7 separate regions of the Homo sapiens genome follow, and all the other regions are reported to be linked to region 1. Evidence: microRNA targets listed by miRTarBase, many of them from high-throughput screens and not tested one by one. Region 1 holds a microRNA gene; each other region holds the end of a gene's coding sequence. Distances are from middle to middle.
What was found. The annotated mature microRNA hsa-miR-4708-5p reads AGAGAUGCCGCCUUGCUCCUU and lies in region 1 at 2,048-2,068, opposite strand. An mRNA with a match to its seed (bases 2 to 7 or 8) in the 3' UTR can be bound and repressed. Matches are read on the target gene's strand: a 7mer-m8 pairs with bases 2 to 8, a 7mer-A1 pairs with bases 2 to 7 and ends in A, and an 8mer does both.

Region 1 (4,067 bases):
TTTGTATACTTCACATAGCTCAGACTGATCTGAGCTATTTTTCTTTCTCAGCGGAGTCTCCGTAGTCTCCGTAATTCAGAGGCACACCAAAATTTGAAAGCCAGCTCTACCACTGACTAATTGTGTGATTTTGGACAAATTAGTTCATCTCCTAGTATCTCAGTTTCCTCATTTGCTAAATGGGGAAAATAACAGCTCCAACATCATTGAGCTGTTGTGGAAATTAAATTAATTTAAAATGAAAGCACTTGGAAGAGTACTTGGCACATAATAAATGCTCAATAAGTGTTAAAGATTGCTACTTTTCCTGTCCCTTAGCAACTAAAAAATATCTTTTAAGGAGCGCCATTTCCTGGACATACTACAAAAAAGGGGAATTGCCTGCATTTACATAGATTTTTTGATAGTTGATGTCTCTGAGAGCAATATTCTTTTAGCCCCTTCTCTAAATCCAGGTTTATGCCTAATTTAGATCCCACGGTCTCCTGTGGTCCTAACCACCTTGTGAACATGTTATGAAGGTAAATTGAAGTTAATCTAGGGATGGAATGATGAGAGCAGGTAAAAGATAAATAGTTCAATGGTTCTCAACCTTGGCTATACCTTATAATTATCTGGAGAGCTTTAAACAATGCCCAAGTCAGCTGGGCATGGTTGCTCACGCCTATAATCCCAGCTCTTTGGGAGGCTGAGTCAGGAGGACTGCTTGAGGCCAGGAGTTTGAGACCAGCTAGGCAACATGGTAAGACCCCCTCTCTATTATATATTAAAAATAATTTTTAAAAAATGCCTAAGTCACACCCCAGACCAATTAATATCAGAATCTGTGGGAACAGGGCTCAGCTATCAGTCTATTTTAATCTCCAGATGATTCCAGTGTGTAGCCACTGGCCTCATCTTAGCTCGGCTGAGCTGGTGAGACCCAGTAATCTGTATTCTAACAAGCCTTCTGCAAATCTCAGGACCTTTGGTGTGAACCATCCCATCATCCTCCCAATGTCCAGGCCTCTGATTTCACTTCTCTGCCCAGTGGGTGTGACTTGAAAGCAAGAGAGGAGGTGCAACAACCCTTAGTTTCTGTAAGAAGGTACAAGGAGACCAGTTCTGTATATCAAATCCTGGTTTATTCTAGCCAGACCTGTCTTAGGGACAATGATGGTCTTTCAGCCTAAATGCTTGCTTCTCAGGAAGCAGGTGAGCCAATGAAGGGCCCCACTCTCTCCAAGTGGAGACTATAGCATTTGCCTAAAATACCCCTTCTCTCCAGTCCTAACTGTCCTGGAAGCTTCTCAGAGGCCAAATATGTAAACAAGTTCCAAACCAACACATCTGCTTTTCATTTCCTGCGGAATGCTAAAACGAGTCTTTTAAGGTTGCTTAAAATATGTTCTCTCCTCCCGCCCCACCCCCCAGGGCATTTGCTGTGCGTCCTCAGACCACCTCAGCTCCTCCTTCCCTACACCTGGGACTCTTCTGCGCAGACTTGGCTTCAAACAAGGCTCACGGTTCTTCCTGGCATTTGCTTTTTTGGCTTAGCGAGTGCACATTCAATATCTTTTTCTTCTTTTTCTTGAAAGCACTGTCTTCAGTCTCCTCACTTGTCCCTTTCTCCTCTGGCAAGCGTAATGCTATCAACATTTGAAAGTGGCCTGATTCCCTGGTGTCTGGTAAATGGCCTTGCTGGTGAACTTCTTTAGGAGAACTGCAAAGAAACTAGAGCAGGGGCTAAAGAGAGCTGCTCTCTTGGGGCTCAGATGCCCCTCCTGGGGCCCCACCTCACACTAGGTGGGTTTCCTTCCTAAATTTGAGCAACGACTCTGTGTGACCTTAGCCACCCTTAACTTTGCTCTGCTTCTGTTTAGCATCTGTTAAGGAGTGACCTTTGCCACCAATTAATGAGGGTGAGGCCCCATTCAGTTGCAAAGAACGTGGAATTGTAAACAAACTTGCAAGTGGAAAGACTAGTTCCAGGGGAAATGTAGGTAAGAAAGGTGCTCCCGTATTCTCCTTTTAGTATCAGAGAGATGCCGCCTTGCTCCTCCTGTTCAAGGAGCAAGGCGGCATCTCTCTCCTAAATATGCTGTTGTGTCTCATACCTCAGCTTCTCAGGGCCCTGCCAAGAGCGGGTAGGTAACATAACAACAGCTGTTACTGCCCCAATGTATCCTCCCTCCAAATGTCAACAACATACACTTTGGAGTGGCCTCTTTATGTTAAGGCCTTGAGCTTTAAGACTCAGCTCTGGCCTTTAAGAATCGTATGTTCCCGTTGAAGAGACAGGATGTGTGTAAAGATAGCAGCTAGAGACCATGCCCAACAGATAACAAACATTAAGGGAATACATAAGTATTGAACAAATATATATGGAGCACTAATTATGTTTTGTTGTAAGCTCTGAGGCTAAAGTGTTATAGGACTTTCTCCTTAGTTCAACTAAAAGCCGGATTCTTGTCACACAGCCATGAGAGATTAGGCTTGCAGACACTTTGAAGGGTGAGAAGAATGGAACTTATTGGGCAAAAAGGAAAATAAATGGAAACAGGGACTCTCAGCAAAGTGAGAGTCCTGCTTGCTGGTTTTTCCTGCCTCACTGATTGAATCCCATGTACTACCCTGGATCAGGAGAGGCCAGGCTCCTTCCTGCTGCAAAGGGTGTGAACTTCTGCAGCTCCACCCTGTTCTCCCAGTGCGCAGGCCAGTCGGAGTTTCTCAGGGGACCCCTTTACACTTGGCTGTCTCAAAAAACAGGGAGCAAAACAGATAAAACCCCTGGCTTTATGGATCTTATGTTCCTTATATATATATATGTATAAGGAACACACGTATATATGTGTATATATGTATATATATATTTTTAGGTTCTGGAATAAATGTGCACAACATGCAGCTTTGTTACATAGGTATATACATGCCATGGTGGTTTGCTGCACCCATCAACCCGTCATCTACATTAGGTATTTCTCCTAATGCTATCCCTCCCCTATTCCCCCACCCCCTAGATCTTATGTTCTAATGAGACAAGACATACTTTGAGAGGCCAAGATGAGTGTCAGCAAATAAATATGTATAATACACCAGCTTCTGGGAAGTACTTTGAAGGAAAATGAAGCAGATTAAGGAGGGTAGAGTGACATGGTTAAGAGAATGTGGTTTTTTAGATGGGAGATCAGAGAAGACCTCTCTGGTAAGGAGACATTTGAGTCAAAATCTGAAGAAGGAGGGAGTGAGTCATCTGAGTCTGTGAAGAATTTTCTAAGCAAGGCGAGCAGCAAGCACGAAGGCTCTCAGGAAGGAGTGTGCTTGGTGAGTTCTAAGAACAAGCAGGCCAGTGTAGCTGGAAAGTAGTGAGCAGGAGACTGTGGGCAGGAGAGGACATGAGAGAGGTGACAGAGTGGATCACTGAGGACCCTGCAAGTGGTGGTAAGGACTTTAGATTTTGTTTTGAAGCCATTGGAGGGCTTTGAGTAGAGCAGTGACATGATTGGACTCACACCTTGGAAGGATCACTCTGAGCATGGACTCCAAGAGTGCACAAGGAGAAGTGTGAGGCCAGTGAGAAGGGTGCTGCAATAATCCGGGATGAGATGAAGATGATGGTGGCTTGGACCAGAGAGAAGAGACTAAGGGTGGTGAGATGAGATTAGATTCTGATATATAATGAAGGTAGAGTAGACAAGATAGATGAGATATAGGGTTATGATTTATGACATAAAGAGAGAAATCAGGAATGATTCCAGTGTTTTTGGCCGATACTCAAGGTTTTAAATTTATAGCAGGGATGGGCTGCTTCTGGTTAAGATAATAAGGGAAAGATTAATGAAAGACCCAAGATTTGAGCTGCACTTTGAAAAACTAGTAGGATTTTGTGACTTATAAAAAGTCTCAAGGGCTTATTTTGAGACCATTTTATCTCCTGGAGTGCAGCCTCCTACCCTAGTTCCACTTCTTTCAGTTATATCAACCAGGAGCTCTGGGATGCGGGACTCAGCCAGCCCAAGGAAGGTGAATCTGGATTCTTTAGGCCAATCATGAAAATTTTCTACTCTTGCCAGTAACTGGTTTAGAAA
Region 2 (4,067 bases), 4.1 Mb from region 1:
TGTACCTCTACTACGAGCTGACCAACTTCTACCAGAACAACCGGCGCTACGGCGTGTCCCGCGACGACGCGCAGCTGAGCGGACTCCCCAGCGCGCTGCGCCACCCTGTCAACGAGTGCGCCCCCTACCAGCGCAGCGCGGCCGGCCTGCCCATCGCGCCCTGCGGCGCCATCGCCAACAGCCTCTTCAACGACTCCTTCTCGCTTTGGCACCAGCGCCAGCCCGGCGGGCCCTACGTCGAGGTGCCGCTCGACCGCTCCGGCATCGCCTGGTGGACCGACTACCACGTCAAGTTCCGCAACCCGCCGCTGGTCAACGGCAGCCTGGCGTTGGCCTTCCAGGGCACGGCGCCCCCGCCCAACTGGCGCCGGCCAGTCTACGAGCTCAGCCCCGACCCCAACAACACCGGCTTCATCAATCAGGACTTCGTGGTGTGGATGCGCACGGCGGCGCTGCCCACGTTCCGCAAACTGTACGCGCGCATCCGCCAGGGCAACTACTCGGCCGGGCTGCCGCGGGGCGCCTACCGCGTCAACATCACCTACAACTACCCGGTGCGCGCGTTCGGCGGCCACAAGCTCCTCATCTTCAGCAGCATCTCGTGGATGGGTGGCAAGAACCCCTTCCTGGGCATCGCCTACCTGGTCGTCGGCTCCCTCTGCATCCTCACCGGCTTTGTCATGCTGGTCGTCTACATTCGCTACCAGGACCAGGACGACGACGACGAGGAGTGATTCCGGCTTTCCAGGGATCCCTCCTGCTTCTTGCCAAAACTCTTGCAAGGTGCTTTTGGCATCTCCTCCTCGCCCGTCACCCAATTCCAACCTCGCCTAGCTTTTCCTCCCTTTGTGAATGAGGGGACCAGATAAGGGAATTACCCCCCTTGCTCTTGGGGGGCTGCTAGACTGTCTTGCCGCGGGGAGGGATGTTGACTGCAGAGTGAAACATCCTTGCAAACTCTTCCCACCTCCTTCACGACACTGAGTTGCCATGTGAGGTTCTTCAAGTCTGAGAGTGGAAGGGATCCCTATGGAGACTCCTATTAAACCCCTATTAGAGGAAGAGATTGAGAGACCTAGCAATGTGAAGTAACAAAGATCAGGCAGCTGCAAGTGACTCCTGAATCTTGAGTCCAGGGCTTTCGCCACTACAGTACAGTGGTTTTCTTTTCTTTGGTCGGGGAGAGTGGGCTGGAATGGAGAGTGAGGCCCACAAATTACCTGCAGAGACGTGGAGGCGTGAGGGAGAACATGCTTGTTAAATATGCAGGTAGATTAGGAGACACCAAACAGAGATTCAGACACAGTAAGGCTGGGATGAGATCCTCGAAGCTGTGTTTTAACAAACTCCACTGGAGAGTCCCATATTCCCTCAAATTTGGGAATCACGACCCTGAACCAGGTTGGGCCTGAAGCAGTCAACTGAATTCACTTTTTCGGATAGTAATTTGTTCCCAGGGGCAGTGACAACCATGATGTTCCAGGTTTGGTCTGGCACTCTGCCTTGAACGTAGGAAGCTCTTGATGATTTGTGGAATGAATTTTTAAAAAATTACTATCTGGGGAAAACTAGTTGGCATACAGAGTTGTAGGACAGGGTTTATGTGATTCATTTGATATTTTAGTATTTTGGTGTAAAAGCCAACAGGCAAACTTTGCCAGGTACTGTGTAGAAACTCGAAAATGTGAGGCCAGTTTGTACAGTTCAGAGGAAATGCTTTAACGTAGAATCAGATAGCTGGAAGAGATCTTCGAGGGAAAGTAAGTTCCCTAAAGTCACATCTATGTCTCCTAGCTCAGTGTTCTTTGTCATTGTGTGTGTGTGTGTGTGTGTGTGTGTGTGTGTGTGTGATTAGAAAGGGCTTCATTCATACCTTTTCCCTTGGACCTGGAAAAAAAATTTTTTTTATCTTTTCAAATGAAATCTATTGATTTCTAGTAATCATATTTGAATCAATGTTAAAGCATATATAGTCTTATATGTAAACTAGATTCTTAAGATTATTTGAACCTTTGAGATGAAGTTTACACTCAACTAAAATCATTCCATTGATTTTATTGATTAACATCAATCAGTATGTTTAAAGTTATTCTAAGAAGCAATAGTTTATTTTTAAAAACCTTGTATAGCAAAATAACTTAAAACCCTTTGTGATATCATCTTACCAGTTTATTTGGTAAAAACAAACAGTTATTTGGTATTTGTCAGAATTCTTCAGTGCCTGCTATTACAGCTATTTTCCAATTACTAACTTGATTATACTCACTCAAGGCAGTGCAAGATCTTGAAGTACTTTTTAGCAGTTAAGTAATATTGAATTGTATTGAATAGTTTACATAGTTTATTCTAGTCTTTGAAAATTACTGAACATGGACAATGTGCATGTCATTGACATCTGCCTTAGAACTTCTGGGACAATCCTGATTCGAGAGATTCTATCCCATTATTTACATATACCAAAAATACTTTGTTAATTTAATGTGTTGGCTTCCCAACTCCTGAACACGACACAATTTTATTATTAGATTTTGTATGGTGATTTTAGGCTATGAAAACATGATCATTATATGTATATAGATACATTTTTATTTGTTACAAATGTTTGAGCAGCTCACTAGCCCACCCCTCCTCTATTTTGGGTAAGAGAATTTACTACCTTTTTTAACTATGTAGTTGAGAGCAACATGTATTTTGTTATTTTTAGAATGGTCAGTATATTGCTATAAAATTTTAAATGAGACTATGAAAGTTAAAGTATTCTGATTCTGGTTAAATTAACGAATATGGTTCCAGGCCCTGTTCTCTGGGTTTTTGAGAGAGAATAAAGGTTATGTTTGTCTTACCTTTGTTATCGAGTTTGCTGAATTCTTTTGAACGATGATCTTAAAGGCACAAACACCACCAGCCACTTTGCTAATTTCTTAATAGCAGATTTACATTGCAGCAAGAAAACCATCTTTTATAGTAACATTCAGTTAAAATGAACTCAATTCATTGTTAACTTCCTAAAACAGAATTTGAACTTTATCAACCTCAACGTGTATATAAACTAGATAGTCCTCAATACTTTATCAACCTCAACATGTATATAAACTAGATAGTCCTCAAATACTGTTTGAATTTAATAAATGTCAATTTAAAAATTTTTGTAGTAGTCTTCTGCATTTTACTTCAATTATAAATTGCAATTATTTATTGGATATTTTGGACTTCAAAGCAGCAGAAACTTTAAAACTGAAATGGGAAACGTTTTCCTGCAATGATCCCTGTGCTGTAACATTTTGTCTGGTGTCTCAGGCTTCCAGGTTCTTGTTGGCCTGAATTCCCTTGTTGCCCAGTAAATGTTCACTAGCTAGAAGTATCTTCAGGAAGTGAGATAGAAAAGAGTGAACCTCAACAATTGGACTGGAAATGAGCTTTGACCTAACTTTGTAAAATAAAAGCATAAAAGAGAAAGTAAAGTAGTTGGTGAGAGCTCCTAAAACAATAATATGTCACTGTATTTTCTCAGATGGTTAAAAAAAATTAAAACAATAATATGACAAAGATTTTCCAGGTATCTCCACAATCAAATCAACTAACCAATTTGCTCACTATAAAATTATTGTTATTATTATTTTTTTTGAGACAGAGTCTCACTGTGTTGCCCAGGCCGGAGTGCTGTGATGTGAACTTGGCTCACTGCAACCTCGGCTCACTGCAACCTCCGCTTCCTGGGTTCAAGAGATTCTCGTGTCTCAGCCTCCCAAGTAGCTGAGATTACAGGTGCACACCACCACGCCCAGCTAATTTTTATATACTTTTAGTAGAGATGGGGTTTCACCAAGTTGGTCAGGCTGGTCTTGACCTTCTGACCTCAAATGATCTGCCCGCCTTGGCCTCCCAAAGTGCTGGGATTACAGGTGTGAGCCACCAAACCCGGCCTATGTAATTATTAAGATTCAGAGACAGACTAATAGTCTGGAATTTCCTTTAGAGCAAATATCACTTCATAATATATAATCAAAACCCTTTCTACCTTACTTTAAGTCTGTTGCCGTCTTCCTGTCATAGGAGATCTCAACAAT
Region 3 (4,067 bases), not on the chromosome of region 1:
AGACATTTGGAAGCATCTAACTTTAATGAAAAAAAATGACAGAAAGAAAAATACAGAGAAATATAGTAAGTTAGCAATAGAATCATAAGTAAATCTCTGAAGAAACCTTTATGTTTTCATTAAATATGGAAGGGTTATAGCTTGAAGCCTATTGGAAATATGAATGTGAAGGAAATTGTATTTGTCAATGACCAGATTTTTATATCAACCTTCCTTTTTTCTGTCCTTTCACTAGTACTATTTAGGAGCCTACGTTTTTATTATCTTCACCGGCTTCCTCATTACCTTCTTGGCCTTTACCTTCTTCAAAGTCCCTGAGACCCGTGGCAGGACTTTTGAGGATATCACACGGGCCTTTGAAGGGCAGGCACACGGTGCAGATAGATCTGGGAAGGACGGCGTCATGGGGATGAACAGCATCGAGCCTGCTAAGGAGACCACCACCAATGTCTAAGTCATGCCTCCTTCCACCTCCCTCCCGGCATGGGAAAGCCACCTCTCCCTCAACAAGGGAGAGACTTTATCAGGATGAACCCAGGACTGCTTCTGAATGCTGCTACTTGATTTCTTTCTCATCCCACGCACTCCATGAGCACCCCAAGGCTGCAGTTTGTTGGATCTTCAATGGCTTTTTAAATTTTATTTCCTGGACATCCTCTTCTGCTTAGGAGAGACCGAGTGAACCTACCTTCATTTCAGGAGGGATTGGCCGCTTGGCACATGACAACTTTGCCAGCTTTTCCTCCCTTGGGTTCTGATATTGCCGCACTAGAGGATATAGGAGAGGAAAAGTAAGGTGCAGTTGCCCCAACCTCAGACTTACCAGGAAGCAGATACATATGAGTGTGGAAGCCGGAGGGTGTTTATGTAAGAGCACCTTCCTCACTTCCATACAGCTCTACGCGGCAAATTAACTTGAGTTTTATTTATCTTATCCTCTGGTTTAATTACATAAATATTTATTTTTTAAGTGTAATTTTGCCAAATAATAAAAACAGAAGGAAATTGAGATTAGAGGGAGGTGTTTAAAGAGAGGTTATAGAGTAAAAGATTTGATGCTGGAGAGGTTAAGGTGCAATAAGAATTCAGGGAGAAATGTTGTTCATTATTGGAGGGTAAATGATGTGGTGCCTGAGGTCTGTACATTACCTCTTAACAATTTCTGTCCTTCAGATGGAAACTCTTTGATTTCTCAGAAAAGTTGTATGCCTATTTAATAAAGCTACTCATTTCCTTTGGAACTTTATCTTTAAGATAATAGTTTACATGTAGTAGTACTTGAAATCTAGGATTATTAACTAATATGGGCATTGTAGTTAATGGCGGTTGATGGGTTCTAATTTTGGATGGAGTCCAGGGAAGAGAAAGTGATTTCTAGAAAGCCTGTTCCCCTCACTGGACGAAATAACTCCTTGTAGTAGTCTCATTACTTTTGAAGTAATCCCGCCACCTATCTAGTGGGAGAGCCATCCAAATGAGAAACCTAAAATAATTGGTTCTTGGTAGAGATTCATTATTTCTCCACTTTGTTCTTTAGGAGATTTTAGGTGTTGATTTTCTGTTTTATTTTAACTCATACCTTTAAAGGAATTCCCCAAAGAATGTTTACAGCAAACTTGGAATTTGTAACCTCAGCTCTGGGAGAGGATTTTTTTCTGAGCGATTATTATCTAAAGTGTGTTGTTGCTTTAGGCTCACGGCACGCTTGCGTATGTCTGTTACCATGTCACTGTGGTCCTATGCCGAATGCCCTCAGGGGACTTGAATCTTTCCAATAAACCAGGTTTAGACAGTATGAGTCAATGTGCAGTGCAGCCCACACTTGAGAGGATGAATGTATGTGCACTGTCACTTTGCTCTGGGTGGAAGTATGTTATTGTTGACTTATTTTCTCTGTGTTTGTTCCTACAGCCCCTTTTTCATATGTTGCTCAGTCTCCCTTTCCCTTCTTGGTGCTTACACATCTCAGACCCTTTAGCCAAACCCTTGCCAGTGACAGTATTTTGGTTCTCAGTTCTCACTGTTCCCTCTGCTCCTGGAGCCTTTGAATAAAAATGCACGTAGCTATGGAGTGGGGTTTAGCTGGAAAGGTGGCCTTCCAACTTCACGTCAACTTCTGGCTCCTCAGTTTGGCAGTAAGGCAGGGAAGTTGTTTTCCTATTTCTCACTGAGAAGATTGTGAATATTTCCATATGGATTTTCCATTATTGTTTGTTTGATTCTTTGTTTTAAAATAAAAATTCTGAATGTACATGACATCACAAGCACATTATTTATTTATTTTTTGCCGTTCCTGTAACAACAAAATCAGCTTTAAATCCTGAGTTGGCTACTCAGTACCTGTTGTGACCTTGAGACTTGTATGAGACTCTGTTCTTAGAGTCTCATACATAAGAGAATAGCAATATTTGGCCGGGCCCGGTGGCTCATGTCTGTAATCCCAGCACTTTGGGAGGCAAAGGAGGGCGGATCACCTGAGATCGGGAGTTTGGGACCACCTGGCCAATATGGTGAAACCCTGTCTGTACTAAAAATACAAAAATTAGCCTGGCGTGGTGGCAGGTGCCTATAATCCCAGCTACTTGGGAGGCTGAGGCAGGAGAATCGCTTGAACCCAGGAGGCAGAGGTTGCAGTGAGCCAAGATTGCGCCATTGCACTCCAGCCTGGGGGACGAGAGTGAGACTTTGTCTCAAAAAAAAAAAGAGAATAGCAATATGTGTTTATTATGCAGATTAAGTGAAAAAGCCTTCGTGCCTTGCTTTTCATACTTGATGAATTATGTTGCTTTCTTTCCCCAGTGAGAACTAGTTTTTTTTTTTTTCTGTTTTTCTCGTGTTCCTTTCCACTTCCTTCCTCCTCCAGTCTTTGCTCTCTACAATTCATCCCACACTGCTGTCAGGGCATCCATGTGACATACAGCAGTCCCTTGCCATCCCCAGGGGACTGGTTCCCAGACCCCTTCTTAGATAACAAAATTCAGGGATACTCAAGTCCCTTATATAAAATGCATATAGTCTGGGTGCAGTGGCTTATGCCTGTAATCCCAGAACTTTGCGAGGCCAAGACGGGCAGATCACGAGGTCAAGAGATCCAGACCATCTTGGCCAACATGGTGAAACCCCATCTCTACTAAAAATACAAAACTTAGCTGGGTGTGGTGGCATGCACCTGTAGTCCCAGTTACTCAGGAGGCTGAGGCAGGAGAATCCTTTGAACCTGGGAGGCGGAGTTTGCAGTGAGCTGAGATCACGCCACTGCACTCCAGCCTGGTGACAGAGCAAGACTTGGTCTCAAAAAAAAATGCATATAATTATTATTGTGATGATTTAAATGCAAATAATCTATGCACATCATCTCATGCACTTTAAATCATCTCTAGATTACTTTTAATACCTAATACAATGTAAATAATTGTTAAACTGTATTGTTTTTTATAGTTGTATTGTCTTTTTTCCCAAATATTTTCCATCTGTAGTTCTTTGCATCTGCAGATACAGAAGTCGGACTGTATATCACTATCCTACTTAAAATCCTTCGGCCGGGCGCAGTGGCTCACACCTGTAATCCCAGCAATTTGGGAGGCTGAGGCGGGCGGATCACAAGGTCAGGAGATCGAGACCATCCTGGCTAACACGGTGAAACCCCGTCTCTACTAAAAATACAAAAAAAAAATTAGTGGGGCATGCGGCGGGCGCCTGTAGTCCCAGCTACTCAGGAGGCTGAGGCAGGAGAATGGAGTGAACCCGGGAGGCGGAGCTTGCAGTGAGCCGAGATCGTGCCACTGCACTCCAGCCTGGGCGACAGAGGGAGAGTCCATCTCAAAAAACAAAAGAAAACAAGCCGGGCATGGTGGCACATGCCTGTAGTCCCAGCTACTTGGGAGGTTGAGGTGGGAGAATCACCTGAGTCCAGGCGATTGAGTCTGCAATGAGCCAAGATCGCACCACTGCACTCCAGCCTGAGTGACAGAGTCCCTATCTCAAAAAACAAAAAAAGTATATTATACTAAAATTTGTCTTCCCAAGGATTATAATTGTTTTTTATCGGAGGAGGGGAACAGGATATC
Region 4 (4,067 bases), not on the chromosome of region 1:
GGAGAATGTGGCAAAGCCTTTACCCTATCTTCACACCTTACTACACATAAGAGGATTCATACTGGTGAGAAACCCTACAAATGTGAAGAATGTGGCAAAGCTTTTAGTGTATTTTCAACCCTTACTAAACATAAGATAATTCATACTGAAGAGAAACCCTACAAATGTGAAGAATGTGGCAAAGCTTTTAACCGGTCCTCACACCTTACTAATCATAAGGTAATTCATACTGGAGAGAAACCCTACAAATGTGAAGAATGTGGTAAAGCCTTTACCAAGTCCTCAACTCTTACTTATCATAAGGTAATTCATACTGGAAAGAAACCCTACAAATGTGAAGAATGTGGTAAAGCCTTTAGTATATTCTCAATCCTTACTAAACATAAAGTAATTCATACTGAAGACAAACCCTACAAATGTGAAGAATGTGGCAAAACTTTTAACTACTCCTCAAATTTTACTAATCATAAAAAAATTCATACTGGAGAGAAACCCTATAAGTGTGAAGAATGTGGCAAAAGCTTTATTCTGTCCTCTCATCTTACTACACATAAGATAATTCATACTGGAGAGAAACCCTACAAATGTAAAGAATGTGGCAAAGCTTTTAACCAGTCCTCAACCCTTATGAAACATAAGATAATTCATACTGGAGAGAAACCCTACAAATGTGAAGAATGTGGCAAAGCCTTTAACCAGTCCCCAAACCTTACTAAACATAAGAGAATTCATACCAAAGAGAAACCCTACAAATGTAAATAATGTGTCAAATCCTTTAGTGTATTTTCAACTTTTATTAAAACACAAGATAATTCATACTGGAGAGAAATCCTACAAATGTGATAAATGTGGCAAAGCCTTTAACTGGCTCTTAATCCTTATGAAACAAAAGATAATTCATACTAGAGAGAAACCCTACAAATGTAAAGAATGTGGCAAAGCATTTAACTGGTCCCTAAATCTTACTAAACATAAAAAAACTTAAACTGGAGAGAAACTACAAAGCTGGAAGACATCACAGTAATTCTGACAACACCTCAAACTTTTCTAAACATAAAATAAATCATACTGGTGAGGAACTTTAAAAATGCGAAAAATGTGACAAAATCTTTAAATGATTGTCACACTTGATTGTAGGTAAGATAATTCTTACTAGAAAAACTCTTACAAGTGTGAAGAATGTGGCAAAATTTTTAATGAATACTCACACCTTATTGCCAGGAAAGCATTTATACTTGAGAAAAATTGTACCAATATAAAGACTGTGAAAAAGCCATTAATGTCTGCTCACATCTTACTCAACATCAGAGAGTACTTAAAAAAAGTATTATAAATTTAATTACTGTCAAAAAGTATTTCAGAAAATATAAGCTTTTAAAGTATTTATTTTGAAGACAAACATTACAAATAAAAGAGGATTGTAATACCTTTATTTGTATCACAGATCTTATTGTACACATTTTGTACTAGAGAAAACCCTGAAGCAGTTACTTAAACTTTGTTCAACATCAGGGAATTCAGATTGGAGAAAAACCCTGCAAATGTAATAAATTTGAAAAAAAAGTTTTCCAAAACTACAACTTAGACAACACCAGAGGGTTCATACTGAGATATATTTTTGCAGATGCAGTATATATTTAAAACATTTAATCCAAAATAAGTCTATGTAAATATCAGAGAATTCACAGTGGAAATATCTAAGGTAGGGCCGGGCATGGTGGCTCACGCCTGTAATGCCAGCACTTTGGGAGGCTGAGGTGGGCAGATCATGAGGTCAACAGATTGAGACCATCCTGGTCAACATGGTAAAACCCTGTCTCTACTAAAAATACAAAAATTAGCTGGGCGTGGCGGCACGTGCCTGTAGTCTCAGCTACTTGGGACGCTGAGGCAGGAAAATCCGTTGAACCCAGGAGGCAGAGGTTGTAGTGAGCCGAGATTGCACCACTGCACTCCAGCCGGGTGACAGAGTGAGACTCCATCTCAAAAACAAACAAACTAAGGTATGGATGCTTCAGACATTACACTATATCAAAGTGCTGACTGTTAAAAATGATCCCAAACTAACGGTAGATAAATTTATTTGTACATAACTTTAAAAGGAGTAGAAGATTTTTTGGAAGTTTGTAATTACATTCAAAGTATACTTTTTTTGTTTGTTTGTTTTCCTTGAGACAGAGTCTCTCTCTGTCGTCCAGGCTGGAGTGCAGTGGCACAATCTCAGCTCGCTGCAACCTCTGCCTCCTGGGTTCAAGCAATTCTCCTGCCTCAGCCTACTGAGTAGCTGAGATTACAGGTGCACACCACCACGTCCGGCTGACTTTTGTATTTTTAGTAGGGACGGGGTTTCACCATATTGGTCAGGGTAGTCTTGAACTCCTGACCTCATGCTCTGCCCAGCTTGGCTTCCCAAAGTGCTGTGATTACAGGCTTAAGCCACAGCGCCCGGCCCAAAGTGTTCTTTTTTCCTTGAAAAGAAGTACAGATTTTTTAAAAAGCTAATATTGCTGTGATTCAACTCTCTAGTTACTTGATGCTATTTCTTCATTTCTATTGTATTCACATGTGAAAGCATGTGATCAGTTGTCACGGCATCAAAGATAGGAGAGTTTCTTTTTTTTTAGGTGGGCATTATTTATGACCTTTTCTTTGGAAGAGTAAGGACATTAAAATGTAACATGCATGATGAAAATCTAAGTGGAGATGGTATTTGTGGTTAATTATGATATTGAGTGGTGCATGAGGTAGGTGTTTAGAGTAATATTCTTTTGCATTATAGTAAGAACATTTAAGTTTTGTTAAAATTAAAAAATTAGTACGTTATTTTACTATTTGTACTTTTATGTAATAAAATGCAGTACATTTTTAAATTTTCAGATGATGTGTGAACTTGTTTCATTATACATTTTTAACATGTTAATACTATTGTGCATTCAATGAAGCATTATTATGCCACTAACTGAAACCTATCCCATTTACTCAAAGGTGTAGGTAAATGATAGTAAGAATATACTATTTGGTAATGTAATCAACTAACATCTCTGGTAATCTCCTTTGCCAGTGGCTTTCAACTGCAAATAAGTTTAAAAAATACTGTTTCCGTAGGTTAAATTTTTATTATTTTTTCTTGTTGAAATCTGTTTAATTTTTTTTTTTTTTTTTGAGACAGTGTCTCGCTGTGTCCCCCAGGCTGGAGTGCAGTGGCACGATCTCGGCTCACTGCAAGCTCCGCCTCCCACATTCACGCCATTCTCCTTCCTCAGTGTCCTGAGTAGCTGGGACTACAGGCGCCCGCCAACACGCCCAGCTAATTTTTTGTATTTTTAGTAGAGACGGGGTTTCACCGTGTTAGCCAGGAGGGGCTCGATCTCCTGACCTCATGATCCGCCCATCTCGGCCTTCCAAAGTGCTGGGATTACAGGCGTGAGCCACTGCGCCTGGCCTAGATTTTTATACAACGTGTAGCAAATACAAAATTTGCTAGAGAATATATTTTAGAAATCAAAATTTTAGGAGTTCTAATGGTAAGTAAAGAATTTTAAATTTACTTTTCTGTAATGTAGTGTAACTTAATTTCTATGCAGAATCTTCTACTTTAAGAGTGAATGTTAAACATGGCAAAATAATAAAGTGACCTCTGTGAATTTGAAATTTGAGATAATATTTCTTTTCCATACTGATATTACAATTTGAAGAAATTTCCAGTTCATATAACTTTTTTTCAGTGGGTGAAGTTCAGTCTACAGTTTTTTTTTGTTTTTGAGAAAGAGTTTTGCTCTGTTGCCCAGGCTGGAGTGCAGTGGCCCAACCTCGGCTCACTGCAACCTCCGCCTCCCAGGTTCAAGTGATTCTCCTGCCTCAGCCTTCCAGGTAGCTAGGATTACAGGCATGCGCCACCACACCCAGCTAATTTTTGTATTTTTAGTAGAGACCAGGGTTTCCCCATATTGGGCAGGCTGGTCTCGAACTGCTGACCTCATGATCCACCTGCCTCAGCTTCCCAAAATGCTGATAACAGGCGTGAGCCCCCGCACCTGGCCCAATCTACAGTTTTTATTCTGAGTCAT
Region 5 (4,067 bases), not on the chromosome of region 1:
GGAAGACTTACAGAGGGGAGTAAGACAAGGTCCTTGTTCTCAGAGGTTAGCCCAGTGGGAGGGAGAAGCTGTGAGGTGAGAGGCTGAGACAGGTCAGGCTGTGTATATGTCGAGATGAAGAGGTAGGACAGGTGTGTGGTGGCTTCAAGGGCCACTGGTAGTAACAACAACTAGCATTTTGGGGGTGTTTTCTAAATGCCAGTTCCTGTTCTAAATACCTGTTCTAGCTCATTTAATCTTCACAATAGCCCTTGAAGTTTGGCCCATTATTCTCATTTTATAGTGGAAGAAACTAAAGCACAGAGAAATTAAGAAACTTAAGTTCATGCTGCTGCTAAGTGGTGGAGCTGGGATCTGAACCCCGACAGTCAGGTTCCAGAGCTCTTTCCCCCAATGTCATCTTTGTTGATGCTCTTTTCCCTGCATTTTCTGTGATGTCTACTGATCACCCAATCTCACCCACCCTGGTGTCCACACAAGGTATCTCAGTGCCACATACCAGGGTCTGAAGTCCATGTTGTACTGCTGTGGGAACAGAACACTTTCATAAAGCTCAATCCCAGTAGCCAAAGCCAGCAGCTTATGTTAAAGCTCATCGTGTGCTTTGAATCTCTTCACTCTTCCAAGACCACCAGGATGAGGTGGAGAGCTCTGCTCCAGGAGGCATAAGATTGGTTCATGGTCCTGACTGCCCTTGCTCTTAGGGAAACCCCCCCTCCCCAGTTTCATGTTGGACAAATGTGACCTCTAGGACCTCACTACTCAAAGGGTGGTGTCTGGACCGGCAGTCACCATCTCCTGGGAGCTGGCGAGAACTGCAGACTCTCTGGCTGAGTGCTGAGTCAGAAGCTGCTTCCTAACAGGCTCCCTCAGTGATTCCTGCATGTAGTCATGTGAGAAGCCCTGGGCTAGGGCCCTTGGGCCATATTCTTTATAGTCTGTGTGCCAAGCTTCTCTTATCCATCATCCCAGGGGCACCTGTTTGAAAGCCTTTTCCACTGGTGTATCTACTTCCAACTTTAAGCCTTCTCCAAATGTCTAGAATCTCTTTCCCTTCCCCCACGAGAAGCAGCAGAGAGCTGTCTCTCTCCTGTGCCTTGATGAGCCCCCCATGGTCCTCCACACCTATCTTCAATAATCCCCATCCAAGTTTTAAACTTATCCTTGTTTTCTCCTGATAAGCCAGGAGAAAGCTCACCACCCTCACCGTGATGAGATGTAACAAAAATGAACTATCTCTAGTACACCCCACTTTTATGAGACCTGTCTCAATGGTACTAATCCTGACAGGATGTAGACACTCATATGACCAAAGAATTAAGCAGGATTCCTTTTAGATGAGCTTCCCTTATAAGGAAACGGGAACTTCTACAACTCTGGCTAACTGGCAGAACCACAAATTGTGAAACAATTCAAGCTTCACTCTCTGAGGTCATATCCTCTATGAAAACTGGTATGTGCCCACGTGACTGCCTTAGCATGGATTTGGTGTCCCTTTCCAAAAACAAGGAACTGTGCCTGTGTGGCTCTCCTCCCAAGGCATGCAGAACCTTCTTTGCTTCAGAGTAGCCATGATACGTTTCCACCACGCCTGTGCCTTGGATGAAAGTGGAGATTTTCAGGATTACGATTCTGGGAGGTTAGTGAACAGGTGCTATTCCTTGCTCTCAGAGGCAGATCCAATTATGTCCACCCAGTTCAGGCTGAAAGAAATACATTTCTATTTTTTCCAGAGTGTAGAACACTACTTTGCATACAAAAACCATCTCTGGGAAGTTACAAAGTCATTTATATGGTTTGTTGTTGGGTTTTGCTTTTTTGCTATTGAGAGAAAAGAGAAAGGTAGAGAAAGAGGTTGAAGGTAGGGAAGGCTTGGGGAACAGAACCTTGTTTGGCCATTCCATAAAGTAAATCACCATTTCCAAAATTGATAGAGTAGTAAGAAACATTAAAGTTATAATCCCCTCTTCAAGGAGCTACCAGCTTAAGGAACCAAACACCACAACATATACTGCCTCTGGTCCCATAATAATGTGCAGGTGGGCTCTCTGCAAATTCCAGGGATGGTGCAGGTCTCTTAGCACATACACCTGGTTCACTTACAGGTAATCCCCCCAACATGGTTTGGCTCTGTGTCCCCACCCAAATCTCATCTCGAATTGTAATCCTCTGTGTCGAGGGAGGGATCTGGTGGGAGGTGACTGATCATGGGGCATTTTCCCCCTGCATGCTGTTCTCACGATAGTGAGGGAGATCTCATGAGATCTGATGGTTTAAATATGGTGGTTTCCCCCGTGCTCGCTCTCTCTCCTGCCACCTTGTAAAGAAGGTGCTTGCTTCTCCTTTGCCTTCCACCATTATTGTAAGTTTCCTGAGGTCTCCCTAGCCATGTGGAACTGTGAGTCAATTAAACCTCTCTTGTTTATAAATTACCTAGTCTCAGGTAGTGTCTTTATAGCAATGTGAAAACAGATGAATACACCTCTTATTCAGAAATGTCAATTTCTGTCACTTAATTCTTTCTCTGGTTCTGCCCTTTTAAAGTTAGAATTGCTCTTAAAGAGGGAGAAGTCTACTGGAGATCCACAAGCCTAAAATGATGTGAAATCTTGAACATTCAATCTCTGTACTACTACTTAAGATGACTGGGATTAAAATGACCATTGGAACCTCATACAATATTTAGAATCAGACCACAGCAGCAATTTCAACCATCAATGGCATTTTATTGTGGAAGTTTCTATGTATTACATAGGTATTAACTTCCTTCCTCTCCTGCTCCTCCCCACAAAATCCAGAAAGTTATTTTTATACATAAACAACTGAACATATAAAAATCTTGGACCTAATTTCTCTAAAGTCTTGGGTTAAAAGAACTTGAGTGGCGCTTCTCCTTTCTGAGAGTACTACTTCTCAAGGAGGATTCATGGTCTGTCCTTTGCTCACTACAGATTTCTCCTCTTCTCTGGGAAAAAATGGTCAATGCTTCTGCTTCCTTTTAATAAACTAATTTCTTGATTATTATACATTATTATTATTCCCCACTTGACACCTTCTTAGAAACTTGATTGTTGGATGTGTTTTTCATTTGGCAAAAATTCAATGTGGCTTTGCGTGGGATGTCTGAAGTGTCAGAAACAGCACTGTTGATGTTCTGGTTTTGAGAGGGAAAATATATATAGAGATGCATACATTCCCTAGAAGAACAAATGTAAAAGACTGAAATAGGGCGTGCACAGAGTTAAGAGGGCTGACAGACACTACTTGGTTTGGAATTCTGTGGCTGTCAGCCATCAAGGACTGCTGTGTAGGCCAGAATATAAATCTCCTTAGGAAGAAGTTTGGTTAGGCAAAACCACTGAGAAATGACAGTGGCTGCTACATTGTTCGACGTATATCAGAGCAGACATGCACAAGAAGCAGCATTATGGTTCATGTGTAGTAAGTAGTCACCTATTGATAAACAGGGGCATTTGTGCAAATGCTCTGGCAACCTAGGCACTGGGGGAAGAGAAAAGAAGCATCCTATTAAAATGTACTTCCATCTCTAACTCACCCAAGATGCCAGGCCTCCTAAGCTTCATGACTTGCAAAGCCAAAATGAATTTAGCATTACATGTCATTCTATGTCATCTAGAAGCTGGTTCACTGGGGCCATCTCAGAAGAGCTGCTCAAGAGGGTAGCAAGTCTACCCAGAAGGGTATGCCTTAATGATCTTCACGTCGTCCACAGGGCGGTCCTGGGAGTTTGTTTCTACCATTCCCACGCGATTCACCATTCCTATGCCCTGACACACTCGGCCAAAAATGGTGTGTTTGCCGTCAAGCCACTGGGTGGGGGCGAGGGTCACAAAGAACTGGCTGCCATTGGTATCTGGCCCCGCATTGGCCATTGCGAGAATTCCAGCCCCTGGTGGGAAAAAGGAAGAAAGGAAAGAGTATAAATAACCCCACAGGTCCAGTGTAGAGCTGCTGCCCCATCCTAGGGATGAAAAAGCAGCCAGGACTTTGTTCTGGCCTCTGTCCAGACCCAGACAACCCCTCAGGGCAGTCTCTCTGCCCTGTAC
Region 6 (4,067 bases), not on the chromosome of region 1:
AATGGGAAAATACACCCTTCACCCGTCTGTCCTAATCCATAACTAAAGGAGTTTGACTGTATTATCCCTTAAGGTTGACAGGTCTGTGATGGAGCAGGAGCGGGGCAGGGTTCTATCTGAGTCCTGGCTGCAGGGTCACCCCAGTTGCCTTCTCTCACTCTGTCTCTCCCCTGCAGCCGACAAGGAGGCTGACGAGTATTACATGAGACGGCGGCACCTGCCCGACCTGGCTGCCCGCGGCACCCTCCCCCTCAATGTCATCCAGATGTCCCAACAGAAGCCGTTGCCAAGGGAACGACCCCGCCGGCCCATCCGGGCCATGTCCCAGGACAGGGTCCTGTCCCCGGATCGGGGCCTGCCAGATGAGTTCAGCATGCCCTACGACCGCATCCTGTCCGACGAGCAGCTGCTCTCCACGGAGCGCCTGCACTCCCAGGACCCGCTGCTGTCCCCGGAGCGGACGGCCTTTCCCGAGCAGTCGCTGTCCAGGGCCATCTCGCACACGGACGTCTTTGTGTCCACACCCGTGCTGGACCGCTACCGCATGAGCAAGATGCACTCTCATCCCAGTGCCTCCAATAACTCATACGCCACCCTGGGCCAGAGCCAGACGGCAGCCAAGCGTCATGCCTTTGCCTCACGCAGACACAACACGGTGGAGCAGCTGCACTACATCCCGGGCCACCACACCTGCTACACAGCCAGCAAGACCGAAGTGACCGTGTGACCGGCGGGGCAGGGCCGGGGCTGCTGGGCGTGGCAGAGCAGAGCGGGGGCCGGGAGGGGCCAGGAGCAGAGCTTCTAGCCTTGCCACTCTCCCTTCCCTTGTCCCCTCTGTAGGAAGTGGGGGTGGGCCACCTTTGCCCAAAAAGCCATACCCCCGGGGACACAGCCCCGATGGCCTGGTCCAATACACTTAGACCCAGGACCAAGAGCAATCGCTCTTGCTCCTCCAGAAGAATCAGTGGGGAGTGAGGAGGGGGCTAGGCCCCATTCTCACCCCCGACCACCTTCACCAACTCCCTTTCCGTCCCGCGCCTCCTTCTCCCCATCCGGGGGACTCAGCTGCAGGTTCTGTCAGCAGAGAGACCCTTGCTTGACTGTGGTCTGAAGCTGCCTGGGTTTGAAGGGGCCAGCGGGTCCAATCAGTGGGCTGACCGGATAGGCTACTCGGTCTCATTCATTCATCTAGAACCGCATCACAGAAATCTCCTAGTGCCTAAAAACTGCCTGCTCGCTCTCTCAGAGCCAGGGAGCTGCTGTGTCCATAAGCACAATAATGATTCTTTTCTTGCCTGCTGGAACTCTCTGGTCCCCACTGAGTGACCCTTCCTTTGCTGACCCCTGAGGGCCCAACCCTGGCCCTGTGCCCCTCCCCTCAACTCCAGGACCAGGAGGGGTTCCCTTCCTTCAGCTGCCTCCCCATTGGTGGGAACTCCACCCCCTTCCAGCTGACTGCCCGCCCATAAGGACCCTGGGCCTGTCCTTTCAGCGGGCTGTGCTCCTTCCCTGGCCCTGAGGATTTCACCCTTGAGTTTTCTGGGGTTTTGGCTGTAGCCTTCGCAGAGGGGAGTAGCAATGGGGTGCTGGCCCTCCCAGACACCCGATCATCTCCGCACTCCCTCCAGGCCTCTAGACCTGACCATGACTGCCACTCAGGCTGCCTTCTCCACCCCTGCTCTGCTCCCAGGAGGCACCTGCGGTGGCCAGAGAGCCAGGGTGGGGAGGGCCACTGTGATGTGCGGGGTCTCGGGCTCAACATTCGCATCCTGCAGGGCTCCACCTGTTCCCACATGCACCTCCGGCAGGACCTAGACAGAAGTTTCTAGAGAGCAGCTTTTCAGCCCCCAGACAAGGAGGATGAGAGGTGGTTGTCCTGCATCCTCTCCGCTCATCCTTCCTTCCCCATCTCTGTCTACCTGCTCAGTTCAGAGATCACTCCTACTGCCTGTGTCCCCTTCCCCCACATCCTCCCTGCAACTTTATTCCTCCTAGCTGATCCTTCAGATCCGTGCCTCCTCTGGATCAAAGGGACAAAGACCTATTAGCAAAAGCAAACAAAGGTCCTCCAGGCGACTGGCCTAGGGGCTAACTGGGCAGGTCCCCACAGCATCATCCCTTTGTGCAGGCACTGGGGTACCTGGTAGACCATGGTCCTCAGCTCTGTTGGGGGACCGCCACTGCCCGCCCACCTCAGCCTCTTCCCCGCCTCCAGCCTGGGGGTTGGCATGGTGTGACGGCCTCCTGGGGAGGTGACAGTGAATTCAGCAGCATCCGCTCCCCCAAGACCAGAGAGCCTGGTGGGGGAAAGAAGGGGTTCCCTCATTCTCAGGGCCAGGGCACCCGCTGGGTTGGGGCTGGGGGAATCAACTCCAGGCTATTGGGTGAAGGTGTGATCCTAAAAACAGTCAGATCCAACAGCAGTGCCCTTATAAATGGGGTTTTACCTGCCCTCAGTTCTGCACTCATGGCCCTTTAAAAAGGCGAGTGTAGAAGGAGAATTTATTGGTGTCAGCCCTGGAGATTTTTAATCTAACCAAGTCCACAAACCACAGAGAAAGCAATGGACTGTGTCCTTTCACTGATTTCAAGAGTTCCAAAGCTCTCATCTCCTTCTCCCCTCTGCAGGGTGTGCCTCCCAACAGGAACAGGAAACCATCACCCTGGATCTTAGGGGGATGGAGGCTGGGGGTTGTGAAAGCCACTGTCAGACCCCACACTGGGGATGCATTCCTGGAGTCGTGCGGCTGGAAGGCCAGGGACTACCCTCTCTGCTTTCCTCCCAACAGACACATAAACCTTCTTAAGGGCTGGTCCCCAGGGGTTTATAAGAGTTTGTTCCAGAAGGTGAGGCTAAGAGGGTTGGAAAGGAAGAAGTGAGTCTGAATAGAGCAGGTGGCTCCCAGCTGGGCCCCTGAGCCCAGCACCTTTGAATCGTCTAATCTGTGGCCATCCCTTGGAAGGCAGGATGCTGGTGGTGAGGGGAAAGGACCTGAGTGGCTGAGAATGCCCTTCCCAGGTGTCTACATGCAGGTATACACCAAACCAGAAAGCTGATCCCATCTCCAGTGTCAAAGCTTCTCAGCACCAAGTTCTCCAGCCCCCAGGGTGACACTTTTCCCCAGGGGTCCTCCCCAAGCCCTGTCTCTGACAGGGTTTCTGTCTCTCTCAGGGGTTGTTGATGAGTTGATTCCAAGACATTTCTCATCCCAGCCTTACCACTGTCTGGCTGAAAGGCTCTGATGTCAGTTGGGTTGGAAAATTCTACTGCAATGCTTACTTCTTTTCAAGGATTTCTTCTGCTTCACCTTTGGGTCTAGAAGCAAGGAATGAAGGGAGGGAGAGAGGGAGGGAGGGAGGGGAGGAGGGAAGAAAAAAGAAGTAGAGATAGGTCTACAGACTTGCTCCAATTCAGTCCCACATTTCAAAATCCAGAAAACTATGTCATAGCTGGGACAGAGAGGTATCCCATTTATTCAGCTGTCCCATCCATCTTCATGGAACAAGCAAAGCCACATCAATAGGCAAGTTCACGTAGCAGATAAAAGAGGCTTCTGGGGCTGGAACCTAGATGCCATGATTTCTAGCCCAACCAGGCTGGTGGCCTCTACCATACATAGAAGTACCATCCACCCTTACAGTAAAAGCCTCCCTCCTGCTCACAAAGGAAGCCTAAAGCCCAAGATTTCCCTCTCCTTGTTTTATTCATTTTTGCACATCTCTGTTGCTCTAACAGAAATGAACTGGAATCTGCACAGGTTCTCTCCTGCCCTGAAAGTTCTGCCTGGTTTCCTTGGCCTCTGATGGCATTGAAGCTTTCACAATCCCTCCTGCATCTCCACCTTCCCTGTCTTGCTCCAGGCTCCTGGCTCCATGCCTTCCTGTGTCAAAAAGGCTTTGCCAAGAATTACTTCACCTCCTAACCAGGCTTCTGCCCTCAGGGCTCCCCCAGTGTCTTGGGAGTGTCTTGGGCCACACGACTGCCTCTTAGAAAGTTCCAACCTTGCCCCCAATTCAAATTTCTCCTCCCCTCTTTCCACTCTCCCTCCCAGAAACTCCTGATTTCC
Region 7 (4,067 bases), not on the chromosome of region 1:
CGGCCCCGCAAAGTGCTGGGATGACAGGTGCGAGTCACCACACCCAGCCTCCATCATTGTTTATACTGAGCATCGCCTGTGGTCAGTGGTGGGATTGCACTGTGTATTGTTTGGCACCTTTTTTGCACTTGACTATGTATCTTGAAGATCCATCCATTCATGCCAGAACATAAATCAGCCTCGTTTTTTTTCACAGCTGCCTGCTATTCCATCTCCCCTGTTTGGACAAACAGCATAGTGTTGACTTGAGGTTTTCAAAGCAGGGCCCACCCTTGGAGCTCTGTACAGTGACACATCTCCCCATCGACAGCTCTGCAGTGGGCCTGGGGTTTTCCTGCCCATTACTCTCCTCCCAGCATGTCAGCTTGTTCAGAACAGTGATTTCTGTCTTTTGGGGTCACTGCTGATTCCCCGGCCTCTAGAATAGAGGTTGGCACACAGCAGGTACCTGTGGATATTGGTTGAACAAACAGGTGGGCAAAGTGAGGAAGATAAGAAGTCCATCCGTTCAGTTTCCCCACTGCGGAGGGAATAACACTGTCTTTCCACAGGTCACAGACTGGGATGAGCAACGGGCTGAAGGCACGTTTCCCGGGAAGATCTGAACTGGCTGCATCTCCCTTTCCTCTGTCCTCCATCCTTCTCCCAGGATGGTGAAGGGGGACCTGGTACCCAGTGATCCCCACCCCAGGATCCTAAATCATGACTTACCTGCTAATAAAAACTCATTGGAAAAGTGAGACTATGCGTGTGAACGGGCCAGGCAGTGGCAAGAAGCTGGGCTGGAATCAGTGCCCTGACCAGGGAGGGGCTTGAATGAGTATTTTCTCTGTTTTGTTTTTATTTATTTAATTTAATTTAATTTTTTTTTTTTTTATGATGGAGTCTCGTTCTTCACGCAGGCTGGAGTGCAATGGCACGATCTCTGCTCACTGCAACCTCCACCTCCAGTGTTCAAGCGATTCTCCTGCCTCAGCCTCCCGACTAGCTGGGACTACAGGCACACCCCACCACACCTGGCTAATTTTTGTATTTTTAGTAGAGATGGGGTTTTACCATGTCGGCCAGGCTGGTCTCAAACTCCTGACCTCAGATGATCCACCTGCCTCGGCCTCCCAAAGTGCTGGGATTACAGGCATGAGCCACCATGCCTAGCGTTTTTTAACTTAATTTTATTGAACCTTGGCCACCCTCTCTGTGCCAGTCAATGAGTCAAATAGTTGATTATACAGAATAACCTAAGTTCCTATGTGTGCAACCACCCTACATAATTTTAAAGCAAATTATATAGATTATAATATAATATAAAATACATAAAGATTATATTTTATCCAGAAATAAGAAACTATATGTATCTCTTGGAGATACAATTTTTTTTTTTTTTTTTTTGAGACAGAGTCTCAATCTGTTGCCCAGGCTGGAGTGCAGTGGTGTCATCTCAGCTCTCTGCAACCTCTGCCTTCTGGGTTCAAACTATTCTCCTGCCTGGAGATACCTATTTTTTTAACATAATTATTTACACCTAAGAAATTAGTTCTTAATGGCCGGGCACAGTGGCTCATGCCTGTAATCCCAGCACTCTGGGAGGCTGAGGTGGGCAGATCACCTGAGGTCAGGAGTTCAAGATCAGCCTGGGCAACATGGCGAAACCTCGTCCCTACTAAAAGTACAGAATTAGCCAGGCATGGTAGCACATGCCTGTAATCCCAGCTACTCGGGAGTCTGAGGCAGGAGAATCGCGTGAACCTGGGAGGCAGAGGATGTGGTGAGCCGAGATCATGCCATTGCACTCCAGCCTGGGCAACAAGAGTAAATCTCCATCTCACCAAAAAAAAAAAAAAAAAAAAAAAAGAGTTCTTAATATCTAATAAGCAATCTCCTGCACAATGTGTAACTTCTCCCCGTGTTGGGACCTGCTCTTTCATGCTGATCATGATGGTAGTTGGAAGTCATTTAAGTAGGCCAAGTTGAGAGCTGTTCTTCATGGTGCCCCCAAAAGAATTGCCACACAATAACAGCCCAGAATATCCCCAACAGACTCGTCAACAGGGACCTAGCTAGCATGACCAGCCGGAACACTCTTATGGCTGAATTGGTGTGTCCTCAAAACCTTTCAAATGGCCGGGGTGTGGTGGCTCACACCTGTAACCCTAGCACTTTGGGAGGCCCAGGCGAGTGGGTCACGAGGTCAGGGATTCAAGACCAGCCTGGCCAAGCTGGTAAAACCCCATCTCTTCTAAAAATACAAAAAAAACTATAAAAATACAAAAATTAGCCAGGTGTGGTGGTGCGTGCCCCTAATCCCAGCTACTGGGGAGGCTGAGGCAGGAGAATCACTTGAACCTGGGAGGTGGAGGTTGCAGTGAGCTGAGATCACACCACTGTACTCCAGCCTGGGCGACAGAGCGAGACTCCATCCCCAAAAAACAAAAACAAAACTTCAAATGGTTACAAACTTGTCTGATGCATTCACATGAGCAGGGATGATTCTTGTATGGAGAAAAATGGCCCCAGAGATAGATCTTGTGAAATAGCTGCTCATGAAGAAAAGTGGCTGTAGGGGCCGGGCGCGGTGGCTCACGCCTGTAATGCCAGCACTTTGGGAGACCGAGGCAGGCAGATAACCTGAGGTCGGGAGTTCCAGACCAGCCTGACCAACATGGAGAAACCCCGTCTCTACTAAAAATACAAAATGAGCCAGGCGTGGTGGTGCATGCCTGTAATCCCAGCTACTCTGGATGCTGAGGCAGGAGAATTGCTTGAACCCAGGAGGTGGAGGTTGCTGTGACCCGAGATTGTGCCATTGTACTCCAGCCTAGGCAACAAGAGCGAAACTCCGTCTCAAAAAAAAAAAAAGTGGCTGTAAACAGGACCTTAGTGCACACACAGGGAGCTTGAGGGATCGTGGGAGGTTATGGCGTGGGTTGGAAGTAGCAAAGAACTTAAACACCATGAAAAAAAAATTTTTTTTTTGAAATGGAGTCTTGCTCTGTTGTCCAGACTGGAGTGCAGTGATGTGATCTCTGCTCACTGCAACCTCCACCTCCCGGTTCAAGCAATTCTGCCTCAGCCTTCCAAAACGCTGGGATTACAGGCGCTTGCCACCACACCCAGCTAATTTTTTGTATTTTTAGTAGCGATTTAGAGAGTAGTTTCACCGTGTTGACCAGGCTGGTCTTGAACTCCGTGACCTCAGGTTAACCATCCACCTCGGCCTCCCAAAGTGCTGGGATTACAGGCATGAGCCACCACACCCAGCCAACACCATGAAAATTTCAAATGAAACAGGACGGCCAGTGAAAAGTCAAGGTGCTGGACTCCTTGAGTCCAGCTGCCTGATTCTGCCCAGGGTTTGCCACCAGTGCCAGTGTTTCCTGTACATTCCTTTAGAGATAGCTCATGCATCTAGAAGTATTTGTAAATATATTGATCTGATTGGATATGGTGCCCTTTTGCTCACACAGCCCCTGCCACACTGGCCTCTTCAGTGCACAGGAACTGTGAGCAAATGTATTTCGACACACCAGGCTGGCTCCAACCCCGGATCCTTTACACTTGCTGTTTGCTCGACCTGGAATGTTTGGCCACCAGCTGTCCACAAGCTCACCCCTCACTGCCTTCAGGTCTTCATTTAGCGAGGCCTTCTCTGACCACTCAGCCTTCACCTTCAGCTCCTCCATCTTTGTGCCCCTTCACTCCTTTTGTTTCTTTCTCTTTTTTCAATTTTTATTTATTTTTTTAGTTTTTGGAGATGGAGTCTCTCTGTCACCAGGCTGGAGTGCAGTGGCGCAATCTCAGCTCACTGCAACCTCAGACTCCCTGGTTCAAGCGATTCTTCTGCCTCAGCCTCCCAAGTAGCTGGGATTACAGGCACGCGCCACCACGCCCAGCTAATTTTTGTATTTTTAGTAGAGACGGGGTTTCACCATGTTGGCCAGGATGGTCTCCATCTCCTGACTTTGTGATCCACCCAGCTCGGCTTCCCAAAGTGCTGGGATTACAGGTGTGAGCCACCACACCTGGCCTTGTTTCTTAAGCACTTACCGCTAACATGCCAAATGTTATCC

Region 2: the mRNA of TMEM30B is a reported target of hsa-miR-4708-5p. Seed matches in the 3' UTR shown: 7mer-m8 at 793-799.
Region 3: miRTarBase lists SLC2A14 as a target of hsa-miR-4708-5p. Seed matches in the 3' UTR shown: 7mer-A1 at 1,962-1,968.
Region 4: miRTarBase lists ZNF708 as a target of hsa-miR-4708-5p. Seed matches in the 3' UTR shown: 7mer-A1 at 1,980-1,986.
Region 5: the mRNA of PPIL1 is a reported target of hsa-miR-4708-5p. Seed matches in the 3' UTR shown: 7mer-m8 at 3,182-3,188.
Region 6: the mRNA of SHISA6 is a reported target of hsa-miR-4708-5p. Seed matches in the 3' UTR shown: 7mer-m8 at 3,833-3,839.
Region 7: miRTarBase lists COX6B1 as a target of hsa-miR-4708-5p. Seed matches in the 3' UTR shown: 7mer-m8 at 613-619.

Annotation. Positions count from the first base shown.
Region 1 is chr14:65,333,108-65,337,174 of GRCh38, forward strand. MIR4708 (microRNA 4708) reads right to left here and starts at 2,076; the gene lies at 2,010-2,076. RefSeq lists enhancers at 3,015-3,114, 3,175-3,324.
Region 2 is chr14:61,276,759-61,280,825 of GRCh38, reverse strand. It overlaps TMEM30B (transmembrane protein 30B), which reads left to right. Exons shown (of 1, transcript NM_001017970.3): 1 at 1-3,456. The coding sequence ends at 734. It also overlaps a transcript of PRKCH not described here. Among named protein-coding and RNA genes, the nearest start is that of TMEM30B, 2.5 kb to the left of the region's middle. RefSeq lists an enhancer at 63-1,026.
Region 3 is chr12:7,810,703-7,814,769 of GRCh38, reverse strand. It overlaps SLC2A14 (solute carrier family 2 member 14), which reads left to right. Exons shown (of 11, transcript NM_001286234.2): 11 at 236-2,256. The coding sequence ends at 454. Among named protein-coding and RNA genes, the nearest start is that of NANOG, 23 kb to the right of the region's middle.
Region 4 is chr19:21,289,969-21,294,035 of GRCh38, reverse strand. ZNF708 (zinc finger protein 708) reads left to right here. Exons shown (of 4, transcript NM_021269.3): 4 at 1-2,876. The coding sequence ends at 762. It also overlaps the pseudogene COX16P1 and the pseudogene VN1R83P. Among named protein-coding and RNA genes, the nearest start is that of ZNF708, 37 kb to the left of the region's middle.
Region 5 is chr6:36,852,124-36,856,190 of GRCh38, forward strand. It overlaps PPIL1 (peptidylprolyl isomerase like 1), which reads right to left. Exons shown (of 4, transcript NM_016059.5): 4 at 2,706-3,910. The coding sequence ends at 3,690. Among named protein-coding and RNA genes, the nearest start is that of CPNE5, 15 kb to the left of the region's middle.
Region 6 is chr17:11,557,578-11,561,644 of GRCh38, forward strand. It overlaps SHISA6 (shisa family member 6), which reads left to right. Exons shown (of 6, transcript NM_207386.4): 6 at 177-4,067. The coding sequence ends at 727. Among named protein-coding and RNA genes, the nearest start is that of DNAH9, 39 kb to the right of the region's middle.
Region 7 is chr19:35,658,043-35,662,109 of GRCh38, forward strand. COX6B1 (cytochrome c oxidase subunit 6B1) reads left to right here. Exons shown (of 4, transcript NM_001863.5): 4 at 552-740. The coding sequence ends at 605. Among named protein-coding and RNA genes, the nearest start is that of UPK1A, 6.4 kb to the right of the region's middle.